2 separate regions of the Homo sapiens genome follow, and region 1 is linked to region 2. Evidence: fine-mapped expression QTL. Tissue or cell type: nasal epithelium. Region 2 holds a variant in brackets; the other region holds the start of a gene. All regions are shown on one strand. Distances are between the middles of the regions.

Region 1 (4,000 bases), 92 kb before region 2:
TGAATCTTGACCTCCTTGTGTGACCCTGGTTGTTACTCCATTCTAAGATTGGCGTTTTTTTTTGTTTTTTTTTTTGTAAATAGAGACAAGGTCTCGCTATGTTGCCCAGCCTGGGCTCGAGCAGTGCTCCTGCCTCACCCTCCCAAAGTGCTGGGATTACAACAGGTGTGAACCAACACACCTGGCTCCCCAAGGTTCAGTTTTTATCCTCCTCTTGGAGAGGTGAGTGACTTGAGGTCATTTCTTCACAAGCTCCGGTAGGCACCCACAGTATTGTCAAAGAGTTTTGTGTTAGGGAAGTGTCCAGTTTTGTCCAAGAGGAAATAGAAGCGTCGGCCTTTGACTTTCAGAGGTAGCATGGCAGGGACTTCACCCCGGTGGGCCATGCAAGATACCTGCTTCAAAGGAACTGTGAAATGGGCCCCCAAGCCAAAGGGGGCATGAGTGGTGAGGGTCACCTGCTGCCCTCCAGCTCGAAGCACCACTGAGCGCACAGACCGGAGAGAGAAGAGAAGACCAGCACCGAGTACGAGGGCTCCTGCAGGCAGGGCAGAGATTGGGGTGAGGGGTTTTCACTGGGCATCTAAGTACCGACCTTTCCAGTGCCCTCTGAATAAGAAATTTGTGGGATGAAAGTAGTATTTACTGAGCGCTTTTTTTTTTGAGACTGAGTCTCACTCTGCCGGCCAGGCTGGAGTGCAGTACTGAGCTCCTGTTATACCCAGTAATCTTGTTATTCCTCCCAACAACCTTAATAGATGTCCGTTTCCATTTTAATGGGAAGATGGAGAGCTTTAAGGACCTTGCTCAAGGTCGCAGAGTGAAGGGCAGCCCTCAGCCTAGGCTATGACAGGGCACGGCGCTCGGAGACATCACTGTTTCCCAATTTTTTTTTTTGAGAGGGGAGTCTCGCTCGGTCGCTTAGGCTGGAGTGCAGTGGCGTCATCTCGGCTCACTGCAACCTCCGCCTCCCAGGTTCAATTGATTCTCCTGCCTCAGCCTCCCGAGTAGCTGGGACTACAGGCGCTTGCTACCACGCCCAGCTAATTTTTTGTATTTTTAGTAGACACAGGGTTTGACGGTGTTAGCCAGGATGGTCTGGATGTCCTGACCTAGTGATCCGCCCGCCTCCGGCCTCCCAGCATTTGAGCCGCCGCGCCCGGCCAGTGTTTCACATTTCTGTGGGGTAAAGCCCGCCCGCCACTCTCGGATAGGGAGTCCCTGACTCTCCCTGCCTGTATAGGGAAGGTCGTGTCCCGCCACCCCACGTTGTCACAGTGGGAAGCCAGCCCACGTCTTACCGATGGCGCCGCAGCCGACGGCCAGACCGTAGCGCCAGAGCGCGGAGCGCAGGTCGAAGGGGCCACGATTTGGGACCTCCGCATCCAGAGGCTGCACCGGAACCGGGGGCCGGGACACGGCTGCCACAGCCATGGAAGCCCAGAAGACGCCCTGGCCCGCGCAGAACAGCCCGAGGATGGTGAAGAAGCGGCCCCGATCATGCTCAAAGAGCAGCACATCCCGTTGCAGCGTCGTGCCTTGCAGGGGCCGGCAGGTGAGCAGGGGCCGCAGCACGGCTAGCAGCCCCGTGGGCCATCGCCTCCAAGGCGCCGCCATGGCCAGCCGACTTCCGGGGTGGGGCTTCCTGCCGCAGAGCCGCCTTCCGCCCTCCCTGGGCGCCCCCGCTAGAGGGCCCGCCCCCCTCGCTCAGGGCTGGGAGGAGACAACCAATCCAGCACGCAGAACACGAAATACAACATCACTCTTTATATTAAAAAGTGCAGAACACGAAATACAACATCACTCTTTATATTAAAAAGTAAGGAGGTCCTGGGGTTAAGTACACAAAGCACCTAAGTCCTTCGGGTAGTTTAGTGTCAGTTCTACAAAGTAAGCTTTGGCTTCCTGGCACCAGTGAGGCTCAATCTTCTGAAGTCTTCCAGAAGGCAGGCGAGGAGAGGGATCAGGCAGCCCTCCCTCCCTCGGTCACAGTCACGGGGCGGCCTCGGGCCAGACAGGAGGAGATGACAGACGACAACCAGACGGTAATATCCAAGGACTATTTACAGGGGGGACTGCTTCTGAGGCATGACTACGATCACTTCATGAATGCCACTTCTGGGATCTCGCCCTTGGCCTGGAGAAAAATGAAGGTCAGTAGAGGTAGGCCTACCCTCGCCACTCAGCAACCCCACTCAGCTAACCTGACCTCCTGGAGGCCCAGAGATCCTAGTCTTTTTGCCACTGTATTTCCAGACCTTACCTTGAGATGAGTGAAGGCCTGGGCAGATCTGGTGTAGTCCCAGTTGTTGTCCTGAAGGCACCTGGAGTGGAAGAACAGGCAGCTCTGTAAGAACTCTGACTCGTAAATGCCAGCTGAAAGTCCACTCCATAAAAGCACCCAAGTTTGCCAACAAATATGTACATTCTTATACATCCTTGCACTATTTATACAAATGAGACATTAGTAAAAGTCCAGATGTTCTACCAATGGCTTCTCAAAGATAAGGAATATTAAATAGCTGTCAAGAAGCTCAAGATAGTTTTTACAGTGGTAGGGAAAGATGTTCATGGTGTAAGTAAAGAAACTAAGTTGCAGAACAGTATATGAAAAGGAACTTCCATTTTACCTTTAAAGTTTTTTATGTTAATTTATACACAGGCAAATTTTTTATAGACTATCAGGTTTGTGTTTTTCTGTTTGCTTTTTTTTTTTTTTTGAGACCGAGTCTTGCTCTGTCACCAGGCTGGAGTGCAGTGGCGTGATCTCGGCTCACTGCAACCTCCGCCTTCCAGGTTCAAGCAATTCTCCTGCCTCAGCCTCCCGAGTAGTTGGGACTACAGGCGTGGAACGCCAAGCCCCGCTAATTTTTGTATTTTTAGTAGAGACGAGATTTCACCATGTTGTCCAGGATGGTCTTGATCTCTTGACCTCGTGATCTGGCCGCCTCAGCCTCCCAAAGTGCTGGGATTACAGGTGTGAGCCACCTCTCCCAGCCAACTATTAGGTTTTTTTAAGCAGCCAAAAGTTTTGCCTTTTAAAATTTCAGGAGCCCAGGCACAGTAACTCACACCTATAACCGCAGCACTTTGGGAGGCCTAGGTGGGCAACATGGTGAAACCCCATCTCTGCAAAGAAATACAAAAAAATTAGCCAGGTGCTGTGGCCTATGCCTGTAGTCCCAGCTACTCAGGTGGCTGAGGTGGGAGAATCACCTGAGCCCTAGCAGTTGAGGCTGCAGTGAACTGTGATCACACCACTGTACTCCAGCCTGGGCATCAGAGTGAGACCCTGTCTCAAAACAAACAAGCAAATAAAAATTTGGCTGGGTGCAGTGCCTCATGCCTGTAATCCCAGCACTTTGGGAGGCCGAGGTAGGCAGATCACAAGGTCAGGAGTTCGAGACCAGCCTGGCCAACATGATGAAAGCCCGTCTCTACTAAAAAAAAAAAAAAAAAAAAAAAATACAAAAATTAGCCAGGCATGGTGGTGTGTGCCTGTAATCCCAGCTACTCGGGAGGCTGAGATTGGAGAATTGCTTGAACCCGGGAGGCAGAGGTTACAATGAGCCAAGATCGCACCACTGCACTCCAGCCTGGGCAACATAGCAAGACTCCACCTCCAAAAAAAAAAAATAATAAAATAAAATAAGGTGGCACATGCCTATAGGCCCAGCTACTCTGGAGGCTGAGGTGGGAGGACAGCTTGTGCCCAGGAATTAGAGGCTACAGTGAGTTATGATCACCACTATACTCCAGCCTGGATGACAGCGCAAGAACTTGTCTCCAAAAAAAAAACAAAAAAACTGTCAGGAGCCCTCATTATTTACTACTAGCCCTACTTCAGTGCATCCCCATCCTACACATGCCCCGCACTCACTTCTGGGACCACTCGAGGTTCATGCCAGACTGGGTAGAGAATGCTTGCAACATTTCCTGCTGCTCTGGAGAGAGGGTGGGCACCGGGCTGGAGGAAGGCGTGGGTGCAGGCATAGCGAAG
Region 2 (4,256 bases):
GGGAACACAGGGGCCACTTCTCTGCACTATAAACTTTCTGCCTTCCAATATCTTTTTTTTTTTTTGAGATGGAGTCTCACTCTTGTCACCCAGGCTGCAGTGCAGTGGAACGATCTCAGCTTACTGCAGCCTCCTCCCCCAGGGTTCAAGCGATTCTCGTGCCTCAGCCTCCTGAGTAGCTGGTACTACAGCCGTGTGCCACCACACCCAGATAATTTTTTTATTTTTAGTAGAGACAATTTTCAACATGTTGACCGGTCTGGTTTTGAACTCGCCTGGCCTGCCTTCCCATATCTTAAGGCCCTTCCTTGCTCACATCTGTTTCAATGGAATGAATTTTGCCCGGGTTCAAATTCAAGCTTTTGTACCAAGTAATACATAGGAAACACTCAGTGACTTGCATTTGTGATTTCCTTATTTTCCCTTAACTCATAGACTGTCTCATGATTGCGTCTTCCTCCGTTGTTTTAGGCATCCGTGTCATTCTGGACCTTACTCCCAACTACCGGGGTGAGAACTCGTGGTTCTCCACTCAGGTTGACACTGTGGCCACCAAGGTGAAGGTGAGTGTTGGAGCTGATGGCTGGTGGAAGTCAGATGCTGGGGCTGGGACAGTCCTTTCACAGCAAGCCCTGTAGACCCAGCCTGACTCCAGCTGAGGGTCCCTTTGCTCCTTAGGACCAAGGAGGAATGCCTCCTCCTATAGCCAAAGGATAGGCCAATAGCACACCTGTTTTTCTTGTTCCTTTTCTGACCTCTTATTTTTCTTATTTCCTTGACTCTGAGGATGAGACAGTGCCAGGAAGGGACCTTCTCAGAAGTCAGTCTGGAAGTTTGATTTTTCTTTCTTTTGGGAGAGGAAGCCCTTTCTCTGTGAGAATCCTGTCCTGACTGGTTTCCCAGTTCTTGTTTGATGTGTTTGGAATAGAGCCCAGTCTGAAATTATAAGCACTGGGGTACTCCTATGTGTCTGGGACTCTATGCCAAGTATTTTATAGATGTTTTCTAATTCTCTGTATAACCATACAAGGTATATAATTTGCCATAGGTTCAAATGTGTACCCAGCAGGCTAGGAGTAGGGCTTTGAATGTCACCTAGCTCCTGATGTCTGGGTCCTAGGACACTGACCTGTTCAGAATGGGTAGAACAAAAATGGAAGCAGATACTGACACTGCTGGTAGCTGTGATTCTAAGATAGAATTCTGGACTCCCAGCATTTGGGTAGGACCCCGGGATCATCCAGTTTAGGCCTTGCCAGTTACTAGGGGACCCTTTAAAAGTTGCTGATGAGGGAATGTTTTTGGATGGTTTGGCATGAGGGGCGGTACCCTCAGATGGAAATGGAGACCAGAGGAGAGAGTACATGGCCCAGAGAAAGGGAAGAAAAGGAGAATGGGGGTGAAGTTCCACAGTGTGTGCAGGACTGCCAGGATTCCATTCAGCAGCACTGGCCTCTTTTCAAATCTAAACTGCCCTGGGGCTATGCTTTGAATTTCAATCTTTCATCCTTGGCCTTGCTCTGAGCAGTTATTGTACTCACACCTTCCCCAGGCCTCAGGAAACTGGGAGAGGGGGGATCTTGACTGACATTTTAGATCCTGTCTGCTGCTCACTGATTATGACTGTGGACGCGTCTCCCTGCTTCTCTGGGTCTGTTTCTTCATCTCTAAAATAGGTATGCTAACATTCCAATGCTAAGTGTTAAACGAAGTTATGTTTATGGACATACCTTTTCTCTGGGGCCTTTTCTGTGGCTTTCAAAGTTGAAGCTGTGTGATTTGCCAGAGGCAAGAATGAGAAGTAAAATGCTGTAGCACTAAGAAAATGAGTGGAAGGGTAGAGCTGGAGGGGTCCAAAGGCTAAGCCTTTGTAGTGCAGGTGGGGAAGACCCAGGCAAGGCACAGGACTCTCCCCAGCTCCCGGGGAAGTGTGTGGTGGGTGAGGTTTAGTGTGGGCTGGAATTTTCTGAGCCTTTTCCTGAGAACTGATGTCTGTCCTTTATTCTTCTGCCCCCTATAGGATGCTCTGGAGTTTTGGCTGCAAGCTGGCGTGGATGGGTTCCAGGTTCGGGACATAGAGAATCTGAAGGTGAGTTCCCTTTCCACATTAGGGACAAAGCTTGGGCGAGAACAGAGGGACTCAGCTAGAGCCTC[A/G]TAATATTCTCTGGTCCTTGATTCTGCTTTTTTCTTTCTAGGATGCATCCTCATTCTTGGCTGAGTGGCAAAATATCACCAAGGGCTTCAGTGAAGACAGGTGGGTGCAGGAGCCATTCTGCTGACTCAGCTCCAATGTGGGAACCCCTCAGTGGAGTGCTAGGCCTAAGAAGGGGGGATTCCTAGTCTAGAGCATTTTCTTTACCTTTATTCTTTCTTTAGCTTTTTTTTTTTTTTTTTTTTTTTTTTTTTTTTTTTGAGATGGAGTTCCGCTCTTTTTGCCCAGGCTGGGGTGCGATGGCGTGATCTTGGCTCACTGCAACCTCTGCCTCCTGGGTTCAAGCGATTCTCCTGCCTCAGCATCCCAAGTAGCTGGGATTACAGACGCGGGCCACCACACCTGGCTAATTTTGTATTTTTAGTAGAGACGGGGTTTCTCCATGTTGGTCAAGCCAGTCTCGAACTCCTGACCTCAAGTGATCCACCCGCCTCAGCCTCCCAAAGTGTTGGGATTACAGGCGTGAGCCACTGCGCCTGGCCCCATTCTTTCTTGTGCTAACCTTGAACTCCTCCCTCCCCTCTGCAGGCTCTTGATTGCGGGGACTAACTCCTCCGACCTTCAGCAGATCCTGAGCCTACTCGAATCCAACAAAGACTTGCTGTTGACTAGCTCATACCTGTCTGATTCTGGTTCTACTGGGGAGCATACAAAATCCCTAGTCACACAGTATTTGAATGCCACTGGCAATCGCTGGTGCAGCTGGAGTGTGAGTACCATGCTGGTGGGAAAGGGGGCAGATGGGAGAAGAAAGGGTTGTTGGGAGACAGAGGCAGAGGTGGGTTATGGGGCTCACTGGAGTGTCTCTCCCTGTAGTTGTCTCAGGCAAGGCTCCTGACTTCCTTCTTGCCGGCTCAACTTCTCCGACTCTACCAGCTGATGCTCTTCACCCTGCCAGGGACCCCTGTTTTCAGCTACGGGGATGAGATTGGCCTGGATGCAGCTGCCCTTCCTGGACAGGTACTGCTTGCTGTCTTTCTGTCACAGGGAGGTTGTTTATCCATCTTACAATGATGATTCTGGGGATGGCGGCACATAGACGTGAGCCTTGGGGTGAAAACGCGTTTGATTCTTAGTCAGTAGCTGAGTGGCTATGTGGCTTTGGGCAAATTATTTTACCTTTCTGAATTTTGGTCATCCCTTGTGTTACTGCATTTCTTGAAGGGTGGTTAGTATTAAATGAGGGCATGTTTTTAATGGTAATGCCTGGTACCTGGCAGATGTTTGCTATGGTAGCCACCATTCATTTATTCATTCCTTTATTCTTTGGACAGTGGGTACTGTGCTAGGCTCTGTGCCCTCAGGAGCTCATAGTTTAGTGAGGGAGCCAGATAAATAAGTGGAGAAGTACATGGCAGTGGCTGGGCACGGTGGCTCATGCCTGTAATCCTAGCACTTTGGGAGTCCAAGGTGGGTGGATCACTGGAGGTAAGGAGTTCGAAACCAGCCTAGCCAACAGGGTGAAACCCAGTCTCTACTAAAAATACAAAAATTAGCCAGGTGTGGTGGTGCACGCCTGTAGTCCCAGCTACTGGGGAGGCTGAGGCAAGAGAATCGCTTGAACCTGGAGGCAGAGGTTGCAGTGAACTGAGATTGTGCCACTGCACTTTAGCCTGGGCGGCAGAGGGAGACTCCTTCTCCAAAAAAAAAAAGAAAAGAAAAGAAAGAAAGAAATACATGGTAGGGATACTACTACAAAGGCATTCACTAGCTTTAGATACAGGGTTACTGTTGATCCCCGACTTTTTTTTTTTGTTTGTTTGTTTGTTTTTTGTTTTTGTTTTTAAGACAGCATTTCCCTATGTCGCCCAGGCTGGAGTGCAGTGGCATGATCTTGGTTCATTGCAGCCTCCGCCTCCCAGGCCGAAGTGATCATCCCACCTCAGCCTCCTGAGTAGCTGGGATATGTACCATAGATAGGTGCGTGCCATCATGCCCAGCTGATCTTTTTTTTTTTTGGAGACAGGTTCTTGCTCTGTTGATCTGGCTGGATTGCAGTGGTGCGATTATGTCTCACTGCAACCTCTGCCTCTTGGGTTCAAGT

The links. PIP is the estimated chance that this variant, and not a neighbour inherited with it, causes the effect.
Region 1: it holds the start of TMEM223, and the variant in region 2 is fine-mapped to the expression of TMEM223 in nasal epithelium (TOPMed, PIP 0.97).

The regions. Positions count from the first base shown.
Region 1 is chr11:62,790,378-62,794,377 of GRCh38, forward strand. TMEM223 (transmembrane protein 223) reads right to left here and starts at 1,629. Exons shown (of 2, transcript NM_001080501.3): 1 at 1,302-1,629; 2 at 1-538. The coding sequence starts at 1,617. The coding sequence ends at 246. TMEM179B (transmembrane protein 179B) reads left to right here. Exons shown (of 5, transcript NM_199337.3): 5 at 1-23. It overlaps NXF1 (nuclear RNA export factor 1), which reads right to left. Exons shown (of 21, transcript NM_006362.5): 19 at 3,881-4,000; 20 at 2,264-2,324; 21 at 1,753-2,137. The coding sequence ends at 2,099. It overlaps MIR6514 (microRNA 6514), which reads right to left and starts at 2,394; the gene lies at 2,325-2,394. RefSeq lists an enhancer at 1,029-1,538 and a silencer at 1,609-1,758.
Region 2 is chr11:62,882,437-62,886,692 of GRCh38, forward strand. It overlaps SLC3A2 (solute carrier family 3 member 2), which reads left to right. Exons shown (of 9, transcript NM_001013251.3): 3 at 472-563; 4 at 2,021-2,089; 5 at 2,196-2,254; 6 at 2,741-2,921; 7 at 3,029-3,172. Among named protein-coding and RNA genes, the nearest start is that of SLC3A2, 3.7 kb to the left of the region's middle. The variant A/G (reference allele first, on the strand shown) is at 2,155.